Regions from separate parts of the Homo sapiens genome. Here region 1 is linked to region 2. Evidence: fine-mapped expression QTL. A gene starts in region 2. The other region holds a variant in brackets. All regions are shown on one strand. Distances are between the middles of the regions. Region 1 overlaps GRK4 (G protein-coupled receptor kinase 4). Region 2 holds the start of SLC75A1 (solute carrier family 75 member 1).

Region 1 (4,383 bases), 90 kb after region 2:
ATTAATGATTGAGTTTTAGAAGCCTTTTTTTTTAAGTCAGGGTCTTGCTGTGTCGCCCAGGCTGGAGTGCAGTGGTGTAATCATAGCTCACTGCAGCCTTGAACTACTGGGCTCAAATGACCCTCCCATCTCAGCTTTCTGCATAGCTGGGACTACAGCTGTGCGCCACCATGCTTGGCTAATTTTTAAATTTTTTTTGTAGAGATAGGGGTCATGCTATGTTGCCCAGGCTGTTCTCAAACTACTGCCCTCAAGCAGTCCTCCTGCCTTCCCTCCCAAAGCACTAGGGTTACAGGCATAAGCCACTGTGCCCCACCTAGAAGCACATTAAAGTAAACACAAAGTCAGAACGTTTTCTCCCTCTTGTTTCTTGCTGTTGACCCACCTCTTGCTTTATTCTTTTTTATTTCCATTCCCCTCTAAACTTTGTCATGTTGCCCCTGGTGCTGTCCTCTTGTCACATAGCATGTGTCACAGAGCAGGGTGCAGATGGCTGCTTGGAGACCCTGTAATAGTGGACAGGGAGTGGCCCTTTTCAGCAGGCTCCTTGTCTGCAGCATGGGTGCACACTCCACCTTGGTTCCTCTAAGGGAGAGTCATACCCAGAATGCAAGGATGGTTGCACTGCTGGGGAGGGTGGTTGTGCTCACACATAGCTCACAAGCAGTGCTGGGAGAGAGCTTCTTTCAAGTGAGTTTTCTTGGCAAAGAAGGGTCTTACAGTCTAGTAGAGCACACATGGCAAGGTCAGTGGCTCCTGCCGAGAAGAGGACAGGCGTCTAAGGCGGAGATTGAGGGCAGTCGTGGGGGACTTGGAATGCTAGTCTCCTTTTATGCCTCTGCCAGATGCTTTCATGCTTATCTAATTCATGTATGACACCCTGCCCTGTGAGGAAGGAGGGTACTGGAATTCTCATTTAATGGAAGGCGATACCAAGATTTAGGAATCAGACTTGTCCAAGGTTGTGTCCGTAGCTCCTGACTTAGCCTGTGGTTCATTCCTGGTGCTGTGCTGCTCACCAGAGGTGGCTTTGGGTGGGGAGGGCACTAAGCGAAGCTGCTCACTTACTGAGTTGTTAAAAGGCTTAACAAGGGTAGGTAGAACGTGCTCTGTATGCAAAGTGGAGCAATCTCCAAGCTATGTGGTTGATCGGAACAGGGTACGGTGCAGAGTGTGTGTGTAGTGTGCTCCCTTTTGTGTAAACAAAGCAGGGAATTGTGTGTAGTGTGCTTGCTCATAAACATAAAGAAACATAAAGGGACAATCATGAGAAATGGTTAGAAGTGATAACAAGGCAGGGGAGCACACTGATAACCTTTTTCTGTGTTTTTAGGAGATTTTTCTGTGTAGTTCTCTCTTCTTTAGAACTTTACCCCACATGTTTGAGCTGAGCTGTCTTTCCCCAGTGCTAACTCCTGCCTGGCTAACTTAGCAAGACCCCTGCTCTGCCCAGGTTCCCCTCCTGCGCCACGATCTGAAAGGCACTCCCGGGTGGGATGCCAGGATGGTTGCTGGGCCAGTTCCCTGTCTCTTCTCTTGGGGACCACAGTCCTCTGATGCCGATGACCACAGTTTTCCTTTTTTTAAAGTTCTTTTTAAGGTCAGGGTCTCTCTATGCTACCCAGGCTGGGTGCAGTAGCTACTCACAGGTGCGATTGTGGCACAATTACAACCTGAAACTCCTGGGCCTAAGCGACCCTCCTGCCTCAGCCTCCCACGTAGCTGGAGTTTCAGGCATGCACCACCACATCCAGCAGCGATTAAGGATATTTTAGTTGTTACGGTGCAATTATGCCTCACTGCAGTTTTGACCTCCAGGGCTGTAGCGATCCGCCTTGCCTCAGCCTCCTGAGTAGCTGGGAATACAGGCATGAGCCACCATATCTGGCTAATTTTAAAAAATTGTAGGCCAGGTGTGGGGCTTGTACCTATAATCCTAGTACTTTGGGAGGCTGAGGCAGGTGGATCACTTGAGGTCAAGAGTTCGAGACCAGCCTGGCCAACATGGTGAAACCCTGTCTCTACTAAAAATACAAAAATTAGCCGGGCGTGGCAGTGCACCTCTAATCCCAGCTACTCAGGAGGCCGAGGCAGGAGAATCGCTTGAACCCGGGCGGCAGAGGTTGCAGTGAGCCGAGATTGCACCACTACACTCCAGCCTGGGCGACAGAGTGAGACTCCGTCTCAAAAAACAAACAAACAAACAACAACAACAACAACAAAACCAGTAAAATATTTCTTTGCAGTTCTTTTAGTCATTAGCAAAAGTTCTTTGGTTCTAGGGTTGTTCACTCAAATTAATTTAAAGTCACTCAGAGGCCGGGCACAGTGGCTCTTGCCTGTAATCCCAATATTTTGGGAGGCCAAGGCAGGTGGATCACCTGAAGTCAGGAGTTCAAGACCAGCCTGGCCAACATGGTGAAACCCTGTCTCTACTAAAAATACAAAAATTAGCTGGGTGTGGTAATACATGCCTGTAGTCCCAGCTACTTGAGGGGCTGAG[G/A]CAGAAGAATCGCTTGAACCTGGGAGGCGGAGGTTGCAGTGAGCTGAAATCAAGCCATTGCACTCCAGCCTAGGTGACAGAGTGAGACTCTGTCTCAAAAAAAAAAAAAAAAAAAGTCACTCAGTATCATTCCCTTCTGTGCGGTTAAACCACCAGCTGGATACACCATTAGGTTCATTTTCTTAATTTTGCTTTCAATTTTTAGCGATCTAATTTTTTTTTTTTTTTTTTTTGAGACGGAGTCTTGCTCTGTCGCCCAGGCTGGTGTGCAGTGGCGTGATCTCGGCTCACTGTAAGCTCCGCCTCCCAGGTTCATGCCATTCTCCTGCCTCAGCCTCCCAAGCAGCTGGGACTACAGGCGCCCGCCACCACGCCCGGCTAATTTTTTATATTTTTTTTAGTAGAGACGGGGTTTCACCGTGTTAGCCAGGATGGTCTCGATCTCCTGACCTTGTGATCCGCCCGCCTCGGCCTCCCAAAGTGCTGGGATTACAGGCTTGAGCACCGCGCCCGGCCAGCAATCTAATTTTTTAATGTTATAATTATGTAAAACATTTATGTGGTTCCAAAGATAACACCGCAAAATAGAGTGTATCGTAAGATGTCTAGATTCCATCCCTGACCATCCCCAAGTAATTATTTTAACTCATATTTCATTCCTTCATTTACATACTATATATGTATAGATATATTTGTTCCCCACTCATTTCTTAAATAAAGTAGTAGACCACATGTATTGTCCTCCACGTGGCTATTTCACTGAATATACGGTGGAGATGGCTCTGCAACACTCATGGACGGCTTCCGTCCGTCTGCTGTGCCTCCTGCAGGCGAACCTGACCTGTTTGCGCAGCCCTCGCTGGTAAGCGTGTCATCTCCACCGGTGCTGTTTCCGTTGGTGCCGCGATGGAGAGCCTTGGGCACATGTAATTTCCTATTTCGTTGAATGTATCCTTGATAGAGTCCTAGAAGTGGGTGAATTCATACGCAATTTGTCAGATATTGCCAGATTCCGCTCCAGGGTGTTTCCCGTCTGCATTCCCACCAGCAGTGCACGAGAGCACCTGTTTCCCCACAGCCTCGCCAGCAGACCGAGTTCTCGAACTTTGGAGTTTTTGTCAGTTTGTTAGCTGGGAATTGGTATTTCAGTGTAGTTTTAAGTTGCATTTCTCAGTTTAAAAATCCATTTTTATAAGAAAAATAAGACAATGATACGAAAAAAATAAGTCACAACATGTTAGCACTCTACTTAAATGAAAAATACACGAAAGCTGGCCAGGCACGGTGGCTCACGCCTGTAATCCCAGCACTTTGGGAGGCCAGGGTGGGAGGATCGCTTGAGCCCAGGAGTTCAAGACCAGCCTGGGCAACATGACCAAACCCTGTCTCTACAAAAGAAAAGAAAAGAAAATGAAATGTGGATTATTGAAAGAATGCATCTGTACAAGGGGAGGAAACTGAGACATGATAGTACATGGCAGAGCCAGGACTCAGACCCACGCCATCGGGCTGGGTCTGTGCTCCTCACCCCTGTGCTCTCCCGCCTCCCAGGGTGGGCGCGCAGCAAGGGCGGGGTGTGGTGTATCACGTGCATGCATCTGAGTCAGAGGCCGGCTTTCCTCTCTAAAGCATCATGCAGACTGTTTTAAAATGACTACAGTGCCTTGGAGGGCATGTCGCATATTTTTAGTTTTTAGCAAACATTTATTGGTTATTCATTCATTTCACCAATAAATATTTATTGAGCACCTACTGTAGGCCAGGGTATGATATTAGAAGCTGAGGATAAGTGGTGAATAAGTTGAAGATAGTGTCCGCTTCCAGGGCTGGCTAATCTTTCTACACACTCAACAGAATGTTTTCGATAATTTCGTATTTTC
Region 2 (4,328 bases):
GAGAGGTGGCCCAGACTGCATATGAGGTGGCCACACCCATCTGCCCAGGGGCAGGGGCCAAGAGGCAGGGGCGGTCGCTTAAGGCCAGGAGTGGCTCAGAGTAGGGCTTGGCAACCCAGACAACACCCCTCAACCCTGCCCTATTTCGAAGCATCTGAGGGCCACTTGCGTTCTCAGTGCCTTCCTAGGGGCCAGGAGCAGCTCCTTGAAAGCCTGGCTCTGGAACAGGAGCCACTGGTCCCCCGAGAACCCCCTCCAGGATGCGATGAGGGCCAACCAGTGGCCATGAGGGGCCCACAGCCACCTCCCTCTCCCCACCTAACCCCATGGGGCTACTGGCTGGGTGGGAGGAGGCTTCCCCATGGGCACCCAGGCCCAGGAACATACCAGGCACAGCAGCATCACCGGGCGCCTCCCCAAGCAGTCAGAGGTGGCCCCAGTGAGTGGCGCACACAGAAACTGCAGGACAGAGAATGCCGAGCCAATGAGACCTGAGAGACAGATGTCACCATCATGGGGCTGCCTGGCACCATGAGCTGTGGTCTTGGGGCCCTCAAGGCCAATGTCCAGCCCCGTCCTGAGGGTCCAGTCATGCTGGGCCCTACACTCACAGGCCATGGCCCTTGAGCCGAGGGGGCCCCAATGGAGAGATGAGGAAGGATCTGAACGTGACACGCGGAGGCAAGGGATCATGCCCAGAAGCCAGGACATGTGGGCAAGGGCACCAGACATGCCAGCCCAGGGAGTGGGAAGGCAAGGACCGAGAATTGGGGAGGGGCCTGGGCTGGACCACGTCCACCAAACATAGGACCGTAGAGAGCCCGCCAAGGGCACAGAGCCAGCCATACCTCCGAACAGGACACTGTTGTACCTCTTCTCCACTGGCATCCCGATGGCGGTGGCAAACCAGTCCACCCCGCCCTGCCAGGAGCCATAGAGGGGGTCCTAGGGGATGAGGAATCACGATAAGGGCTGGGGAGGTCTGATGGGCCTGGGGGGCAGGGGGCACTGTGGGCCGCAGGGCAAGGACTCACGTGGGCACGGCCGTGGCTCTCCAACAGCCCGGGCAGCAGGGGCAGCAGCAGCGTGAAGGCCAGGAGGTCCAGCAGGAGGCCGAGAAAGACAACGGTGACCACGCGGCGCTCCGGCGGCTGCTGGTGGATGGGTGGGCGCGGGGTGCAGCCTCCACCCCCTCCCCATCCCATGGTGGGCTGCTCTGACCTGGCCTGGGTGGGGTGCGGCGGGTCGGGTTAGCGGGGAAGCCGAGTCCTCCGGGGCCTGGCATACCCCCACACCCGACAGCCGGCGAGCACCCTAAAGGGGCTGATGGCAGGGGCTCTGGCCTACGGACGCAGGGGCCGTTCTGGCCTGCGCGATGCCCCCGCCCCGAACCCAGGCAGCAGGAAACGCAGGCTTCGGGGATTGCACAAAAAATAGCCGCAAAGGCAACGGTCCTGAGAGACCAGGGTGAGCACATCGCGGACCTGGCCCCACCCCACCCCACGGCCGCGCCTCCCACGCCCTCGTAACAGCGAGAGAAAACTTGAAGCCGCGGGGAACCCGGATCCCGATCCCGATCCCGATCCCGATCCCAACCCCAACCCCAGCCCCGGCCCGCGCCCCGCGATTCCGGCCCCTGGCCCGGACTCGGTCTCCCTGGCGGGGGCCATGGGGTGCACACCGGACGCAGGAGCACCCCCAACCCCGCGCGCCTCCCACTCCGCCATCCCGCGTGCGTCCCGGTCCCGCCCCCACCCCGCGCGCCCCCGGTCCCGCCCCCCACCCTGCGCGTCCCCGGTCCCGTCCCCCACCCTGCGCGCCCTCTAACCCCCACGCCGCGCGCCTCCCACCGCCCCCACCCCGCGCGCCCCTGGTCCAGCCCCACACCCCGCGCGCCCCCTACTCCCCTACCCTGCGCACCTCTCACCCGCCCCACCCCCGCGTACCCCGGGTCCCGTCTCCTCCCCCACCCCGCGCGTCCCCTGTCCCACCCCCAACCCGAGCGCCCCCTACGCCCCCCACCCCGGGCGCCCCCGGTCCCGCCCCGCACCTGCCGCGGCTGCGCGCTCGGGACGGACGGTCGCACAGACGCGGAACAGGGCACCAGGCACGCCGCCAGGGGCGGGACGGCCACGCCCGGCCACGCCACGCCCCGGAAGTGACGTACATCTCTGCACGTTCTCTTCCGGCCGGAGTCAGTGGCGGGGTTCTCGCCGGTCCTGCGGGTCGCTGCTTGGCTGTGGGTTAGCAGCACCCTGAGCGGAGCGGAAGAGCTGCCCGCCGCCGCGTAACCCCGAGGCCGAGACTCCTGGCCTGGCCTCCTTGGGCCCACGACGCCTGCCCCGCGGAGCGGACCCATGGGCCTGAGGTTTGTGTGCGGGGCCTCAGGCGAGCGCTGGCGCAGCCTGTCCCCCATCGTCTGCGCCCTGCGGGCCTGGCCCTCCCCGTGGAAGGACCGCGGGCTTCGGGGCCCCACGCTGGGGGGCTGACTCCTGCCACACACACAGCGGTGGCCGCGGGCCTGGGGCGGCAGCACAGCCATTCTGCTCGGGCTGCGTGAGCTGACCCCGCTCTCTGTGCACCTACTTTTGCTGCGTTTGGTGCTGAGCCTGAAGTCCCAGGACAGGCGGCTGAGGGGGAAAGATGGTGTGAATTGGGTGGGCAGAGACAACTGAAAGCCACAGGACCCGGTTGGCACCTTTTTGGCCGCCTGCGCCTTTGCCTGCAGCCCCGCTCCCTGGGTCACCCGAAGGAGGAGCTGGCGCTCTTTCCGGGCGCAGAAGCACCCGACCCACGCTGGAGGAAACGGTCCCTCTGGGCAGGAGAAGCTTTGGGCCTGGCTGGAGCACACTCACGGAACCACGCCAACGCCTGGCCTGTAGCCAGCTCCCACCTCCCCTCCCACCTTCTAAAATGCTTGCGGATCTCACGTGGCCGACCCTAACCAGATACACATGGGGAAAGGAATCAGGTGGCACACATACCGCCTTTACTCCATAGAGAACTTCCAATTGTGGGTAAGAACAAAGCCCCACCTCTTCCTAATAGATGCAGTTTTCCACCTGCAGCCAAAAAGACAACCTGTTATTAGCTTTTTTCCCAGAGGACAGGCATCTCTATGAAACTGCCATTGCAAAATTTGCCGACAGTGAGATAACCAGCTCCATTTTGCTTCTAACCTCCATGCCCTCCTTGTTTACTGCTGCACGCAGGTTGAACTGTGGGAGGAACTTAGTTTAAAACAAAGATGATAACAGCCCTTTCCCAAAGGAAACCTTTCCTGGGGATTAGCCTGCTTTTGTGGGACCAACAGATTAGCCACAAGATTAGAAACTACGGTTGAAGAGTCACGCAGCGGGAGGCTACAGGATTCTGACCCTCCCCAAACTGCTCCTGGCGATAACATCACCATCGTAAAGCCTAAGATCAGCACTTGGTGGGTCACCTGGCACCACCCAGGCTCATCTGATGTTGTGGCACCCAGGAACTGACTCAGTGCGAAAACAGCTTCGACTCCCTGTGATTTCATCTCTGACCTGACCAATGGGTACTTCTGACTCACTGGCTGCCCCCCACCCACCAGCTTATCTTTAAAAACTCCAAACCCCAGATGCTCAGGGAGACCGAGTAATAATAAAACTCCAGTCTCCCACACAGCTAGCTCTGCGTGAATTACCTTTTCTCTGTTGCAAATGCCCTTTCTTGATAAATTGGCTGTCTAGGTAACAGGGAAGGTGAACCCACTGGGCAGTTACACTTTTATCCACCCTTCCAGCTGGATCACGCGCCCTCTTCAATGACATGACACGCAGCTAGAGTGTATGAGCTTGCTGCCGGCACCTTCCGTCCTGGATCGCATAGCAAGGCCTCAATGGACAGCCAGGTGCCTGGTCCGGTCCCACTTTTTTTTCTGTCCTGTTCTCGTTTCCTCTTTGCTTGGCCAAAGAGGGTTGGGCCAGGGTCCTGAGTGCAAAGGCTTGGCTTGGTGAATTAAAGTGGCAGTAGCCGTGTGGCAGAGAAAATTTGTAGATGGGTGAAATCCTGGGCCTACACAGTGACAAAGTGTATATAGACAGCCAGCCTAGTTGGTGGATGTGACAACCCCAGACTCTTCTAGATTTGTGGATCCGTGCACCTGCCAGACCTGTCTCTGAGCCATCTGGGGAGGCTGGGTAAGATTTCCCCCGTCAGGGCCTGAGCCTCATCTCCAAGCTGCTGGCTTCAGCCCAGCTGCCACCAGCGCTGTCTCTGTCTTGCGCTTTCCAGAGAGAGACTGACTCATTTTGAGCTCCAGGCCTACCAGGCAGCCCAACCGCGGCAGTAACTGC

The links. PIP is the estimated chance that this variant, and not a neighbour inherited with it, causes the effect.
Region 1: its variant is the best candidate, but not a certain one, in a credible set for the expression of SLC75A1 in blood mononuclear cells (TOPMed, PIP 0.70).

The regions. Positions count from the first base shown.
Region 1 is chr4:3,022,672-3,027,054 of GRCh38, forward strand. The region is part of intron 10 of GRK4 (G protein-coupled receptor kinase 4); the gene reads left to right. Among named protein-coding and RNA genes, the nearest start is that of HTT, 50 kb to the right of the region's middle. The variant G/A (reference allele first, on the strand shown) is at 2,504.
Region 2 is chr4:2,932,719-2,937,046 of GRCh38, forward strand. SLC75A1 (solute carrier family 75 member 1) reads right to left here and starts at 2,107. Exons shown (of 13, transcript NM_001146069.2): 1 at 2,051-2,107; 2 at 1,035-1,226; 3 at 849-945; 4 at 388-491; 5 at 1-40. The coding sequence starts at 1,205. NOP14-AS1 (NOP14 antisense RNA 1) reads left to right here and starts at 2,828. Exons shown (of 4, transcript NR_015453.2): 1 at 2,828-4,328. RefSeq lists enhancers at 348-577, 598-727, 820-1,687, 2,945-4,144, 3,947-4,186 and silencers at 1,528-1,747, 1,977-2,286, 2,447-2,556.